2 separate regions of the Homo sapiens genome follow, and region 2 is linked to region 1. Evidence: fine-mapped expression QTL. A gene starts in region 1. The other region holds a variant in brackets. All regions are shown on one strand. Distances are between the middles of the regions.

What was found.
Region 2: its variant is fine-mapped to the expression of SMARCA2 in esophagus mucosa (GTEx, PIP above 0.99).

What each region holds. Positions count from the first base shown.
Region 1 is chr9:2,011,774-2,020,107 of GRCh38, reverse strand. It overlaps SMARCA2 (SWI/SNF related BAF chromatin remodeling complex subunit ATPase 2), which reads right to left and starts at 4,761. Exons shown (of 34, transcript NM_003070.5): 1 at 4,704-4,761. RefSeq lists enhancers at 537-1,135, 3,759-4,315, 5,102-5,151, 5,212-5,261, 7,472-7,601 and silencers at 2,652-2,841, 2,992-3,101, 3,402-3,571, 4,712-5,051.
Region 2 is chr9:2,060,088-2,068,421 of GRCh38, reverse strand. SMARCA2 (SWI/SNF related BAF chromatin remodeling complex subunit ATPase 2) reads right to left here. Exons shown (of 34, transcript NM_003070.5): 9 at 7,436-7,606. Among named protein-coding and RNA genes, the nearest start is that of SMARCA2, 49 kb to the right of the region's middle. The variant G/A (reference allele first, on the strand shown) is at 3,915.

The DNA of each region.
Region 1 (8,334 bases):
GTTAACCAAAGAATTTGTCCCTATCGTCCCTTAAATCATCTTGACCAGAAACAGAATCAAATCTTAAAGTGGTTAAATCAGGTCCTACCAACACTCCTTCCACTTGCAAATGCTGGGAAACAGTCCTTAGTATTACATATGTGATAATTCAGTTGTCCTCATGGCACCATGTCAAGATGTCATAAATAGTGATTTATTATTTCTCTGGGGTATCAAAAAGCTGCTGACCTAGAAGAGTTTGACAAAGGCCTTGTTTACAAAGGAAGATTTCTAAAGGAGAAAAAAAAAAAACAAGAAAACACTGGAGGACAGCACCACTTTTATAATTTATAAAACTCTTCTTTTTATGCTCTTGCTGTAATACATAATAATAAATGTCAAAATATTACAACAATATAAGGAGCATCACAATTACCTTTTAGAAAAGGATGTGATATGCTTTTATACTGGCCTGTAGAATGATTTATCTTAAACTTAATAAAAGAAAAAAATTTTAAATACTTATCTGCACAAGTGTCACTTTCTAGTTATACCATGTCAGGAATACTTTAAATAGAATTCAAGCATTAACAATATAATACAAGCCGAGGCACTTTTTTTTTTTTTTTTTTGTCAATTCTAAGCCTCAGGTGTTGGTCAAAGCACTTTTCAAGAAACTTGACGAGAAATGCTCAAAAACCACTTTACAAACGAACAAAAGAAAAGATCTAAGGCTGCTTTGAACATGCTCTTGTGGTGAATATTTTCTGTGAAACACCACAGTGCACCTAGTCCTGATGCTGGGCTGTTACTGATATAAGTCATAAGAGAAAGGCTGCATTGAAGGAAGCCCTCCCTCCCCTCACCCTCTTCAAGGGTTCTGATACCCCACATTCCTCATTCATTTGAAATGTTCTTTACAAAAATGGCATCTCTCTGATGCCCCCAAGGTAGACGGACCTCTGATCTACTGGGTTGTTTTTTTTTTTCCCCTCAGTCTACCGCAATAAGTATCTTTTGGACCTAACAGGTGTCTCTAAATCCCCTCTTTACAATAGCAAACATTTGCATTGTAAAGAAGCATTTGAGGAAAAAAAGAAAGAAAGTCCAAGAGAATAAAAGAGCAATTAGATTCCTCAAAGAAAAAGTGTGTCTCATTTTGCATAACAATGCAGCAACTAGGATTCAAATCTGCCACGCCTCTTAACACTTCACCAGTGTGCTAGAGGTAGCCTGGAAGCCTAAAACTCCAATGCTGGCCAACAAGCTTCTGGTTGTGGCCCCCCTGATAACAGATGGAAAATACTACTGAAAATATTTGAATGTGAATATGTAAGTATACACACACATAACATTGGGTATGGCTTTTTAAATTATTATTAGGGTTCTCAATGGTTTCTGAGTCTTTGGTGGTTGGATAGAAATTTTCTGCTACTCAACGCCCAAGCAACAATCTCATTATTTATGCAAGCATTCTGTTCAGACAAGCAAGGCACACAACCAGGTGTAAATTTTAAGTCCTTTGAAATGGAAGTTTGAAATTCGATATTGGTAACGCAGAAATGTTAAAAATAACCGCTCAGTGCAGTCAACAAACTGTGTATCCTTAATGTCTTCCTTGAGCTCTAACAGTACACATACAAAGTCATACATGCCTACATAATGACCAGAAAGGAGACAATGATGACACCTCTCCAAAAGATTACTAGCCCAGGTCGCTTTGCTTTTTCCAAAGCACCAACCTCCATCAGGTTAGGGAGGAGGAAAAAAAAGAGACAACCTTGCAAAACTCACCCAAAAGTTATATAAACAAAGGAGGGGAGAAGCCCAGTCTAGGCTTTGCACCCATGTGCCACTAAAATTACATAACACCCGGTGCAGACATTGAATAAGGAATGGATTCTGCACAACACCCCCACTCCCTCGATTCCCAAGCCTTCCTCATTCCCTTAAAAAATCCAAACGCCTAGCAAGAGCTAGTGGACGACTTTGAATATTTATTTTATTGCTGGAGTAAAACCTGCGAGAGTTGGAGGTACGTTTAGGCCCGAAGTTTGAATGTGCAACAGCCCCGGGCGCAGCGACTCACACTCTCCGGACCCGGAGGAGAAAGAACTGACAAGCAACAGCGGCCAGCAAGGCCTTCTTCCCCCTCATGGTGCCTCCCGCTGGAAAGTTTTCCACGCAATCGATCGGAGGACAAGGAGCCCATTTCCCCCGCCTGCCTGACTTTGCAGGAAAGGCGAGCCGGGAGACCGGAGGGGGCTGGCAGGGAAAGAACTGGAAAGCTCCGCACACAGCCGGCGGCAGGGCTGCGCAGGCTCCTTACCTGGAGGACGCGGAACAAAAAGGGGCGCGGGGTTCGCGGAGCTTGGGGTGGCGGCGCGGCCGGCGGACGGGAACCGGTCTCCGAGCCGCGGCTCTAGGCCCGCGCCACAGCCCGCGGCCCGGCCCCCGCCGCTGCCGCTTCCTCCCTCGCGCGCGTCATGTCACGGCAATCAAACATGTCTGTGTGCTGTGTGCGCTTCGCTGCTGTGACTTCCTGATTCTCCGCCGCTCGCGCGCGCACACACACACACTCACAACCACACGCACACGCCACCCCCACCAGCCCTCGCCACCAAACCTCGCCTTGTCCTCCCCGGGCTCCAGGGGAGGGTGCGGGCAGGAGCAGCTGCCCGAGCCGCTGCTCCCGACGCACTGGCTCCTGCGCGCACAACACACACTCACACTCACACTCACGCGCAGACACACTCGCGCCGGCCGGGAGGGCGCGGAGGCTGGAGCCGCGGGAGCTCGCAGCCCCCTCCCACCCCTCCACCCTACTTAGCCGCCCTGCCAAACTTTTTTTTTCCTGCCTGATCCACGTCCAACTTCCCTCCACCCCACCCCCCAAGCAGCCCAGCCAGCCCCGCGCTCACCACCATCCGCAGCAAACGGCAACCCGGATAAAAATAATAATGCAATCCAGGCGGCAGAGGCGGAGGCGGAGGCGAGCGATCAGACACTGGCAGGAGGCGATTTCCCCGCGTGTACCGGAAACCGGCCCAAGTGCCCCGGCCAAGGCGCGGGTGTCCGCCGGAGCCCGCACTGCCGCGCCCCGCCCTCCGCCGTGTAACTGCACCCAGGCTGCGAGGCCTGGTGCGGGGCACCGGGAGCACTGTGCTCCGTGTGCGCCCTGCGGCCGGAGGGCGCCGAGGGGCTGGCGCGCCGGACCGGTTATTTAGGGAAGTGCATCGCGACACCTTTGCAGATGGCATGGCCGTGTTTTGCAACGCAAACGGGAGGAAGGGAAGACGGCCGGGTGGAGGGGGAGAGCAAAGGAAGGGGTAAACCAGGTTGGGATGGGAATAAAGCAAACTCCTGAGCAGGGAGCGAGAAGGAAGGAGTGCGTGTCATCGTTGGGAGGAGGCTCCTACCCGGTCTCCCCGCCTCCCGCCCTCGCCACCCCCCTATTCCCTCCCCACCGCAGCCCTTCCCCTTCCCGGGCGAACCACACCGCCGCTGCCCGGTGGTGCGCGGGTCCTGTTTGTGACAGTCAGGCAGACAGGATTATCCGGATCATGGCCTCCCGGGCCCGCAGCCGCCGCCGTGGCTCTCCTGGGTCCCGGCGCGCCCCTAGCACCCGGACGATCGCAGGCGCCCCACGCCCGCAGCTCCCGCGGCGCAAGCAAGGGGAAGACGCGAAGCAAAAGAACACGGACCCGGGGAGAGGGAGGGCAGGGTAACGGAGGCTGGCGGGCACCTCCGACCTCCTTGGGGGCCTCCTCCCTTCCCTCCAGCAGTGCGGCCCGGGCCGGACATCCCGAACTTTAACACCCGAGCCTGCGCTGCCGCCAGGTACCAGAGGCAGGGACGTCCGCAGCGCCCGGGGCGCAGCCCCCTGGCAGCCCCTTTGCCTAAAGGCCTGCCTACCAATCAGCCTCCCCATCCACGCCGGAGGAAACGCGGAAAGTGGAGGTGACACCTCCGATCAGGCACGCACCGGCCCCGCGGCAGTGGCCGCTACCTCCTTCGCGCGTCAGCTCAGGCTTCTCCCGCTGCGATCCGCTCACGTCTCCGCAGCCGGAGCCCTTTGAACAAGTCCCTGGGAAGCGGGTGGCAACAGCGTCCGTTGGCGCCCCGCCGCCAGCCTGGGCTCCCCGCCCTCCTTTCCCGTTCCCCTTCCAACTCTTCCGGGGAGGGTTGCCCGGGATGAACAGTAGCGTTTCCATCCTCCTCCCCTGTCCCCCAGGCCTTCCCCCTCCTGCGGCCACCCCCCTCCCCGCCGCCTCACTTTTAAGGGGATGGGGGGATTGCAACCTGGCCCAATGTGTGTGTTGCAACCTTGAGTTGGCAGCGCCTCTGACTGCCCACTCAGGATCAAGGCTGTGGCTTGTTGGGATTTTTTTCCTCCTTTGCCCCCTTGAAGTAGTAATTATTACTGTTATTATTAGAACAGCAAGGTTCGGTTGAAACTTTCTCGTTTCTTCCACCGCCGCCTGGGAGCTGTCGTTAGAGCATTCCACCTGAGGCCCGCGGGGAGGAGGCGGGCTTTTTTTTGTCGCGGCGGTTGGCCCGCCTGTTTGTTTTGGTCTCCTTGCATGCACAATAAATAATAATTAGGATAATAATGGATAATCCCGGGCGAAGGCGGCGTGGTGCCGGAGGGGTCTGAGCGGCGGCTGCAGCGGGGCGGCCGAAGGGAGGGGAAAGAGGAGAAAAGAGTTGTAAGTTATATTTACCTTGCTCGCGAGGAGTGTGCTGGCTGAATCTCTTCCCTCTCTGAGTCACCCAGAGTACAGAAACAGAGGGAGAGAGGACTAGATTATGAATATGACTTCATTGATGACAGCCGTCCCCTCCTCTTCCTAAACTCGGGCTCCGCCCAGCGTCCCACCCTCGCCTCCTCCGCGGGCGCCGGAAGACGCGCCGCAGTTGGCCCCGCGCGCCGCTCCTCCCTGCCCGTCCGGGCGCGGGTTGGCGGGACGCGCCTGTCACTCGCTCAGCTCAGCGACTCCGGGAGCGCGGGGGGAGGAGGGGGCGGTGTGCAAGAATGTGGATCTAGACAGCTCTACTGTATGCGTGGATCCGTGTGTGACTGCAAGGCGCCGGCTCTCGGGCCGCGTTTGTGCCTGGAGCAGAGAAACTGCGCGGGATGCAGAAAGCCCCAAGCCCTGCTGGAGCTGGGCGCCCGCTGTCCCTTCCCTGGCAGTCCTCTTCCTCGGGCGCCGCGGGGCTCCTCCAGGGAGACTGCGGAAGGGGAGGAGGCGAAGCGAAAACGGAGGGCAGCCGTAGTAATAGCGCGTAGTAGTTCGGGGGTATGTGGAGAAGGTGCTGGAATTTAACTGTGCCTCCGCCTGCCAGTGCGAGCCTGCAGAGAGAGAGGGAGGGGACGGGGGACGGGCTCCGAGTGGCACCAAAGCTGTTTGTGGCACAGTGTGGACTGTGGAAAAAACGGGCATTGTCGTGCCGGCTGAAACTTTTTCTCCCCCTTCCCTAAGGCTGTCATTATAAATCTGCCCCCTATTCCAGGTAAAAAAATAAAAAATAGAAAAGGGAGGCGGGCACAAAGAACGTTCCTGCCAAATCTGTCTCTTCCCTGAAGGACTGCAAGCTTCCAAATGCCAACGAGGGAGAAACAGCTGAGAGGCTGAACGCCTTATAAATAAGTAAACCCACCCTAACCTCTCTGTTTACTTCGTGGACTAGGTACAGCACTATAACCTTCCCTCACCTGCCATCTTCGCTAAAATATATACAAAAATATGGAAAAACAAACCCTGGGGGCGGGGCTGGCGGGTTAGGGGGCGGCTGAAGCATGGAATCTGGTTTTGATTTAAAAAGGGGAATAAATCTCTTATTTTCTACAGACCGTAGTCTCTTCCCTCTCACCCCGCATTTGAGACCAATTAAGGCTGCAAATTGTAATTTGCTGGCAAGTCGCGGTTTTGAGACCTCTTTGCTCCAATTTTCCTTGAAATACAGTACTTTGGCCGGACCAATAGGTCGGTGTTTGGTGAGACAATTTTATTTTTAGTTTTATGAAGTGTGAAAGAATGTTAGGAGACTTTAAATCAGGGGCCTATTATTTTAGACTCAGATTAATGTAGATGCTTGACTCTTAAAACTGTTCCTATGCAGTAGTGTTATGAAAAGTATGATTTATCCCTTATTTCGTAATGTAATGGCTTAAATTAGTCATTCAAAGTGCACTGTGACTATCTGGTTGAGGATTCTTCCCCCTAGAGTAAAATCCTATTTTAAGACCATTTTACTGTTGCAAAATTGACTCCATTTGAGCAACTGGGTCTGAAATGCAGTTCTAGGATGCTTAAAACTTCAGGCTGGATAAGTTGAAGACAAGAAGTAATGGAAAGAACGCCAAATACTGCCATGTAGTCATTAAGAAGCAAGAATTCTTTATATCACTGGTCCACTGCTGGCTGAAGCAGAGCCCACTAGGGCAGCATTTTCATGATGGCTGGGAGTGTTGGTGATCACCCACCCTATAGCTTTCTAAGGTCTTGCTACTTGCTTGTTAACTTTAGCTTCATCATTTTCTGTCTATCTTGAAGTGAACCTCAAGACAACGAAAGATAACACAGCTAAGAGAAATAGAATATAGTGTGCCCTGAAGGATCCATTGTAAGAACTTGTTTTTCTGCCTGAGGATATGCCGGTATAACTATTAACTGAGAAATATATAGGGAGAAATTTTAAACAAGACTAGTAGTATAGTAAAAGTGTAACATAAATACTAACTTCTAACTGCCTAATAAGTCGCAACTAATAATATAGCCAGATAACCTACCTGTCTCTAATAAAGAGATTTAACCTAATAGCAATGCTTATTACATTGAGAGTATTAGGTTTTAATTTTTTTGGGGTCTAATTTGTTTCTCTGGCATGCCGGCCTCACATGCCAATTTTCAGAAATTGATAACTTCACTTTTATTCCCTTGTGAATAAATGCCCTTTATCCCCTTAAGATTCTACTTCCACTTGCCATGCAAATCCTCAAAAAAACAAAAACAAAAACAAATCAATTAGTAAGTCCCTGGAGAAAGAAACTGTCCATTCCTTCTGGCATTTTGTCACAGGGAAAGTAAAGAAGAAAACATTCCCTTTGTTATATGTGTATATTCTTCAGCTCATATAAAATTTTGATGTTGTCCTTGGAGGCGTTGGTATCCACGCATTGTATACACACAGCTATGGGAATTAAAATACATCGTTGGGAACAGAGATTAAATATAGATATTGCATCTCCCTCTCCCTTCGCATTGGTCTAAGAAAGCACCACCTTCCCCCATCACCCTTCAAGTTGTTCCTCTAAAAATTCGTCTTGTTTGTAGTTTGTACCCTAGCAGTTACGAATTTTATAAAATAAGGCCTCAACACAGGAGAAATGAAAAGGCAGCGTCATTCACTTGGTACAAAAAGAAGATTGTAGAACATATAGCATGAGTTTCACCTCTGAGGTAAAACGAAATTTAACAATTGAAGTTAAGGAGGAAAATGATGGGTTTTTTTTGTTTTGTTTTGCAGAAAATCATACAAAAGCAAATGTGGTTGGAGGGTAAAAGGACTCCAGGAGGCTGCACAGGGTGCTACGTTCACACGCAGCTTTTCTTTTTGGACTTTGATGAGTCATAATGTGTTCTCTGAACTTGCTTTTCTCTTTCTAGTTTGGTATCAAAAGATAGAAGTCACTTTTTCATGTCTGTATGGCCACATTCACTTGTTATGTAAGTCTGCTTTGGTTACATTCTGTATAGAGTAGATACTGGGTTTAAAACTTGGTATCTGGATACAACACCCTCATAAAGAAAAATTCCATGCACAACGTTAGGAAGCTTCTAGTCCCAACAGACAAACTGTTAATGCTGCCTGAAATGTTGCCTAGCTTCAAACACGAGCAGGTAAGACCGTTTAGGCAGTGAGTATTTCATCTTCAGTAATGGAAACCAAGATTTGACAAATTGAATCAGCTGACATTTAATTTAAAGAATAGTTTAGAATTAACAAGTAAATTTATTACAGAAATAAACACTCCTCTCTCTCCTTTTTTCTTTTTTTCCTTTTTGAGTCAGAGTCTCGCTCTATTGCCCAGGCTGGAGTGCAGTGGCGGGATCTTGGCTCACTGCAACCGCCGCCTCCCAGGTTCAAGGGATTCTCGAACCTCAGCTTCTCGATTAGCTGGGATTACAGGTGCCCGCCACCATATCCAGCTAATTTTTGTATTTTTTGTAGAGACAGGGTTTCACCATGTTGGCCAGGCTGATCTGGAACTCCTGAACTCAAGTGATCCACCCGCCTCTGCCTCCCAAAGTGCTAGGATTACAGGGGTGAGTCACCACACCCCGCTCTCTC
Region 2 (8,334 bases), 48 kb before region 1:
AATACATGTATGTATGTATGCCAAAGCACAAGGCATAAAAAAAAATGCAGCTTCCACCAAACAGTAGGAAATAAAATGCTCCCTTTGGTTATGATTTTCCAAGTAATTAAATTTCTATTTATGTCACCTCAGAGCAAAAACATTTATAAGCTCAAAAGAAATGATCAGCTTCAAAGAGCATCAGGCTCTACATCTAAGCTAGTGACACAGAGAACAATAACAGAACCCTTGAATTCAAAAAAGAAACCATCCCTGCTACCAGTCACTGAAGGTTCCATTTTTGGAGTTCTCAGAATCTATACTCAGGGGACTGTTTTAATTAATGGGGGAAAGTCAATTAATCCCACCATTCTTTCCATACAAATCAGAAATAAGCTACAAATTTGGCCAACAAAGAAAATCAAATGAGACAATGAATAAGCCAATTTCAAATATCTAGCAAGTGGAATTGGATCACCACTTCAATGAATAGTACATTAAAAAGCTTGAAGCATCATATATTAATATAATCAAAACTATTCTGAAGGATACTTTCCTATGAATGTCCTATAGACTAGCTAGATTGTTATCTAAAAACTGCCTCACAGTCAGGCCCTTCCATTACTTAAAATCCCCAAAACTATTTTTTAAAGTTCTATTAGGTATCAAATCTGAGAGACAGAGTAATATTAGATTTAAGACATTTGGTTCTGCAATTAGACAAACTGTGTTTCAATCTTAGCTCTCTGTAATTAAGTGCAAGAGATCTTAGCTGTATGATCTTGAGCAAATCATTTTCTCTTGTGTCTTAGTTCCCTCTTGCATAAAATAGGAACGGTAACAAACAGTGCCTGCTTCCTAGGGCTTCTGCAGGACTGGGTCACTATTTCGACATGTACAATCCAGTGTCACAAGTAATATATATGCTGCCAGCCTCAATCTCCACATTGTACAAGGGTCAACGATAGTCCGAGGACTATTCTTTTATGTCTATAATTAAGACTGGCTGTCGCATTTCCTGAAAACTGCTTCATAAGGCTATGAGGTCAGGGATTTCTGTCTGTTTTGTTCACTGGTGCATTCCCACACCTACAAGGGCATCAGGCACTTAAAAGGCGCTAAATAAATATTTGGTGATTGAAGGAATGAATGAAAGCACAAAGAACAATGCTTTCCACTTAGCATATGCTCATTAAATTATTACTATCATAAATAGATGCCAATACATTTGCAAGTCATAAAATAGTTAAAAGCACGCACACAATTAGCCATTGAATTGGTGCTCTGTGTGACTTTCCTCGCAAGCATGCCCTGTCCTTGGACCTAATTCTGCCATGTTATTCTAAGAGATAGAGGCCAGGTGGCAGTCTACTCTATGACAAGAGATATCAACTCCTCCCATCATTCTTTGGATTCCTTCAGTTTGATGACATTGCTGGTTGGTGCGCACATGTACTCACATCAACTTCATGCTGTGTCTCAAAACTTAAAAAAACAAAGCAAAACAAACACAACTGTCCCTTTTTCTTGGTTCAAAATTAACACCCAAGAGTTTGTGATTGGTCTACTGTTTGAGCTGACTTCGGACAGTCTCTAAGCACCTAAAGAAATGTCCTGGTGTGAATGCAGCAGCTGCTACAGCGTCTCCTGCCACCTGAGAAATTTTCATATGTAGTTATCTGCATCGTTTAATTGCAGACACATGCTATCAATATTAAGGGCTGATGCCTGCACTTATTTCCATTGATTGAAAACAAAACAAAACACTGAACAAGAAACTTTGTACTGGCTTCTTCCTACATGCAAAAGAGTTTAGAACTAATTATGCTTATGTAGGAAGGGAGGAGTATAATTAACCTAATCATGTAAGGGGACATGATAGGAATTATTCATAACTAAAGATTACTCATAACTAAAAATTACTCAAACTAAAGACAGTGTGTGTTCCCAATTTCCAAGGCCAACGTCAATTCATATCTTCCATTTAGCAATGTTCACAAGCAAAGGTATGTGCATGGCTACCCATCTTCCTTGCAGAAGGTATAAAAAGTAATCAACAACAGGGCTGAGGAGGGAAAGAAATCTCTAAATATGAAAATCCCGTGTAAGCTGAACTCAAAAGAAGACTTCAGTAGGCCATTTTATTTAGATTACTTTAACATAGGCTATAAACAGCCTCATTACATAAAGTTTTAAATCAAATATTTTACAATCTATATTATAAACTGAATGTACTTTATCCCCCAGTGGGTGTTATTATAATATACTGAAACAACATTCAAATGTGCTGGTATCTGAAGTATCCATTCTGTTTTGCTGGAAACCTAAGCTTTCAAAAACCACTTGAGTTATTTTTACTGTCATTTAAGGGGACCTTTGAGCATTAAGATAGGTAATCGGGTAATTTTAAAAAATGCCCAGGGATATGAAATTAGCAGGCATTTGCAAATTACTTGGGTTGTTTCTTATAGAGAAAATCAATTCAAACATTTTGACTCAAGTAACTGGTCAATCCAGTTAAACAGGACTTTTCTCGAAACTTCTGGTCTCCCCCATTTTGACACTCAACTAATCAAATAAATCTAATCACTGTGGCATTGTGTTCGCCTATCCTTACAATAGTTCCTACACTCAAATGTCCAGAATTACATTAGAACCTTTCTTTCATCTATGAAAATCCTGTAGAGGAAAGCTGTAATAAAGTATATAATCTTTGGGGAAACTGTAAGAGATTAAAAAAAATGAGAAGAATCAGGGAGTAGCTTGTATTTAAAATAAATGTCTCAATATTACTGCTTTGCTTTTCAAGCTCTTTTTACTGAAAACTGTGCCAACGGCAGGCTATTCTGACATTCTGGTATCTAAACAGGATAAAAACACATTTCCTACCACTATGTTGGCCAATACATTATGCCAGGAAGGTTCAACCTGCAAAATATCACAGTCCTGAGATTTACTTATAATAGCGGTTGGTAAGGAGAAAGAGAGAGAGAGAGAGACAGGATAAAAGAACTTTCAGAAAGAAAATCGAACACTCCAATGAAGACTATATCTGGTCTAGTGTTGCCTCAGAGATTCTGAGTATGTGCCCATTAGTATCATATGTTTCCAAAAAATGTCACAAATAAATAACACAAGAATAGTTCTGCTGGTATACATCCCACTGAAAGATGTGGAAGGGAGAATTAAATATTTAGTTTTGGCTGATGTCAACGGCTCTGGAAACTGAACCTCTGAAATGGCTAGACTTTTTTTTTTGAGACAGAGTCTCGCTCTGTCGCCCAGGCTGGAGTGCAGTGGCGCCGTCTCGGCTCACTGCAACCTCTGCCTCCTGGGTTCACACCATTCTCTCACCTCAGCCTCCTGAGTAGCTGGGACTACAGGTGCCTGCCACCACGCCCGGCTAATTTTTTGTATTTTTTAGTAGAGATGGGGTTTCAACATGTTAGCCAGGATGGTCTCGATCTCCTGACTTCGTGATCCGCCCGCCTCGGCCTCCCAAAGTGCTGGGATTACAGGCGTGAGCCGCCGCACCCAGCTGATGGCTAAACTTTTAAGCAATAGGCAGGGCTGCTCCTGGTATGGGCTCCTAACCACAGCTTAAGGAAAAATGTACCCTAAAGTACTGTGAGAGATGCCTCATAATCGCCAGGAACCCTAGTAAAGTAGAGGCCATGTAATTAGAAAATTCTCTTTGTAGGAGTTGGGGGAACAGGGTGGTAGGCAGAGTTTATCACCTGTGATAAAGCCTCATTTTTCTTCTGCATGCCTCAGTATTTAAAGAATCTGTCACTGTCCTCAAAGATATCCTACACACTAATATTCAACTGATTTCCAACTAGAAAAAAAGTGGTGACCAATTATTATTGATTCAACATCACAAAGAATATGCAGTAAAGGTTTAAAAAGACATTTGTTTTCAGAAAAACATAACC[G/A]TATTATAATTATGATTCCACTTTCGTATCATAGAATTGCTTGATGAAATAATGTTTACTGAGCACTTACTATATGTTAGGGTGTATTCTACATGCTTTAGATAAACTTTCCCGTGTAATCCTCACTACAAATCTATGGGGTAGACAACATTCCTATTGCCTTCTTACAGATCATGAGACTGAAGCACTATGGTAATAGATCTTTTAACGAACTAGCCTACAAGAGAATAATAGCAAATTAGTATAAATATTTTCTCATGTAGTTTTGATTTTAAAAGATTACCTGCTAACACGACTCAGACAGTGGTCCAATTTTCTAATTCAGCCATGTTCAATCCTAGTTCTACAGGCCCTGGTGGCTTGATCTAGCCCCATTCTCTTTTGTACCCTGTAGGAAACCTCAAGGTCACGCTAAACGCACATAATAGCACATTCATCTTGTAACATCAAAGAAATTAGTTTCGTATAACTAGGTTTTCAATACTTTAAAAATTATTCCTCCTCTGACACTTAAGGAGATACATGTAGTTCACTTCTTCTTCTTCCATTTCAAGGGCTTTAATGGAAGACCAGGCTGAAAATGAGAAGTTACAAAATGATTTATAAATGTGTACTTCCTAAAAATGTCTGTAATGATGAGAAAATTAAACAAGGTCATAACATGTTAAAGGAAACCTACCCTATTATTCACGAGCAACAAGTCAACACAATAAACTCCCAAAGAAAGACAGAGGCCTCTGTCCTTCTAGGGAATTAAAAAAAAAAAATTGTACACTAGTTTAACGCTGAAAATAAAAGGTAATCTTTTTCAGATTAAATTAAGTGAAAAAGTCAACCATATTCATCTTTAATAGCACATTTCTTAGAGTAATCAGTAGCTTAGTTGTCCTTCAAGTGTTGCTACCAGCTCAGTGCTATTAACTACTAGCTCACTGAGTAAAGTAGGTTTTCTCAAAACAAAGGTTTATTGAAGTATTTGTTAATTTAAAAAATATTGATAGGTACAGCATAATACTTAATACTATGGAAAAGTGCTAAAAAGGATAGCAGAGATTTTTATGCTCATAGACACAGAAGTTTTCCTCCACTACAGAGAAGCTAGAAGAAGCAACTCCCAATCATTCACTGCAATGGAGGGAAGAAGAACTACAGATAATCCAAAGTGTCAAATCAGCTTCTTAAAGCATCCCCTTCCTTTGCACTTGAATAAAAGTGCATCTGGAACTGGATAATTCGCTCTGAACTAAGTCTTAAAGCCCCGCAAAAGAGACAGGTACCAGGAAGGGCTAAGGGCCTCAGTTTCTTTTCTTTTTTTCTTCCCCCTTCTTTGTCCCACTTCTCCCAGTAAGATACCCTGGAAGGAAATAGAGCCCCTCCGACTTAGTCCTGCTGAGGGCACAAATGCTAGGCACCCAAGAGCATGCAAGGAAGGGTAGATGGCTGACCATAAAGTAAAAATTCTGCACATTGATCATGTGAGATAATCAATGGGAGATACTCAAAGATATCTGTAAGGTAGACAGTAGCTGCTTTGACAACTATTACGCGTTTGCCAAGAAATCAGGCCCCACCTCCAACTGGAAACAGTTTCCCTCCACAACATTCATCCCAGCTTGTCATTGTATAGTTGGGTGCATGTTGGATTAATATCTGTCTAGCCTCTCTTTCTCTCCCTGATTAATATCAGTCTAGCCTCTCTTTTTCTCTCTCTGATTAAACTGTGAGAGAAGGCAGGATGCTTTTCCTCACCATTGTACCCCTCCTTCTCCCAGCATTCTAGCACACGACCTAGCTCATAGTAAGTGTTCAGTTAACACATGTTGAGTGCAAGCATAAGACACAAAGAATAAGTGCTATTACCAAATTGAAGGCAAGGGTTTGAAAGGGGCGTGCCAACTTACAGATCATGCAGAATAACACCATGAAAAACAATTGTGACAAGTCCCTGTTCTGTACAGATGAACACAAAAATATAGGCATAATCATCAACACTCAATTGTGTATCTTTCTCTGCCTACGACGATGCAACTATCTAACACCACGGCAGAAATCTATTAATTGTAAGCCATAATCTCAAAACTGGGTCATTAGCTTTTAATCACAAAGAAATGTAAAATACAAAAATTTTAATACTAAAAACACTAACAGTGACAACCTCTGCAGAACACATGGCTGAATTAGGAAAAACTAAAACTGCCATTTAATGGGGTCCACTTACAGAATATTCCAGAATTCCATCTCTCTCTCTGCTATCAATATGTCAGTAATTCCTTTTTAATTTTTAAAAATTTTTTCTGGAAGTCATTAGACATATAAAATGTACCACCTTTACCATTCTTAAGTCTACAGTTCAGTGGTAATAACTACATTTATATGATTTATTTCCCCATCATTCTTCCCTCCCCCCTTACGTATATGTTCCTCACTAACTCTGAAAACATCTTTTTAAGGTAGGAATTGGAGCTGGAGTTTTGCACAGTCTATAATGCTACACTGACAAGAAAATGAGGTATTCCTCACCAACAAAATGTCTAAACACAAGCCCTGAGTCATCTCTCGTTCATCTTCACAATGAGGTAAGCTATCTTATACTAAAGAAATCAGTGCAAGAAGGTGCCTTCTTAATCATTTATTCCTCCTCCTTAATTATGAGACAGGTATGAGGATTCAGGAGCCATGAAATTAATTGTTTTTTGAAAAGCATTTTGTTCACTTATTCAGTATACAGAATGAATGATTAAATGCTACCAATCCTCAACCTTTACAATTCTGACTTCCAGTTGATGTTTGTACCTGGCCTAAACAGAATTTATCATGAACACACAGTATCAACCACTAACTAGACGACTGGATGACTTAAGCTTCAAAGAGGATCATATTCACAGGCCTATCCTCAGCAGGTTACTCTTGAATTGAGATATAATAGCTGCAGAGATTCTAAATCTTACCCTTCATTTCTCATGATAATTAGGAGATATTTCACATAGGACTCTTTTTTTATGTAATTACCTAAAACCCCAATGTGCACACTCACCTCACTGCGACACAGGGACAGCAGAACTGAATGAACAGCTTTGGCACTGCCATCTGTCCAAGTAACTATTGCTTATATCTTCCTCTGGCTTCTTCCAACCTGTACACTGCATTTTCTTCTTAAATTTCATTCTTAATTGAGTAATCCCCTGCCACCCTAGCATTAAACTTAAGCGAACACTTATTTGTGTCTGTTTTTCCTTTCCCAATTGACTGTATGTACTTAATTTAAAATCTTCTATTAAACAATGATTTATGAACAACATTGTTTTAGTTTAGTATATCCCATTATTATGCCCTTACCTCCAATAGTTGTCTAGTGTACCTAATCAACACTTCCATGCCATACCCATTTATGCAATTTTCACAATTCAATCATCTAAACCTTCCACCAGTGTAAGAAGTAGTACTTAAAGAGCAATACTCGCCTTAAAAACTTATCCCTGCCCATACACCCTGGACTCAGCCACCACCACTAGGATACGCACCTTCTTCCTCCTCCTCCTCTTCTTCTTCTCTTTGGCTGCCTGGGCTTGCTTGTGCTCCCAAACCAGATTGGTCAGATTGGCTACATACTCATCGGTCTGCTGCAAAAGGTAAGCTAAACGCCTGTCTTTCTTTTGATCAATCAGTTTTCTATAACCCTCCTCATCTTCAGCCTATTAAGGAAAGAAGAGCAGGATGAGAGCATAATATAAGCGTGCAGACAACTCCACTCTCCACTCTGTCCTCCCCTTGACAGTCTGCATTTTGACTGGTAGGAGTGTAGCAAACTGGATGAGTTGGGCTGTTCAAGCCATTGCACAGAGTCTGAAGTGGGACAAACACACAGAAGTGTGACGCCTACATCCCAGGACACTGGAGTTTACAGCAAAGTCCGGGCACAAAGCCACACTGTACGTGTGGTGTGATTAAGCACTCTGAGCCAAGCTCTTTGTTTTCTGTGTTGCTTTAACTGTACAAAAAGATTTTAGAATTTGACAATTCATGATCTAAACTTTATCTTTAACTCTATATTTTAGACATTTTCAAATATAATCAAAAGCAGAGAGAATAGTTTAATTTCTCCTATAACCAACCCCAAACAACAAAAATTCACTTGTGATGACTCCTGTTTCATTGCTACTCTTCTTCTAAACCCAAACTGAATTGTCTTGAAGCAAATTCCAGACATAATATCCTTTCATTCATAAATATTTCAAAAAGTACTACTAAAGGCAAGGAATCAAATGGGCTTTTAACAAATAATGTCTTATATTTTAAAAAGTCTTTCTTTTTGGCATTACAAACTTTGTGGTTAACAGGAAAGATCAAATTTGGGGGATTTTTTTTTTTTTTTTTTTTTTTTTTTTTTTTGGCCACAGATCTGCACTGAGTAATGGGCCCA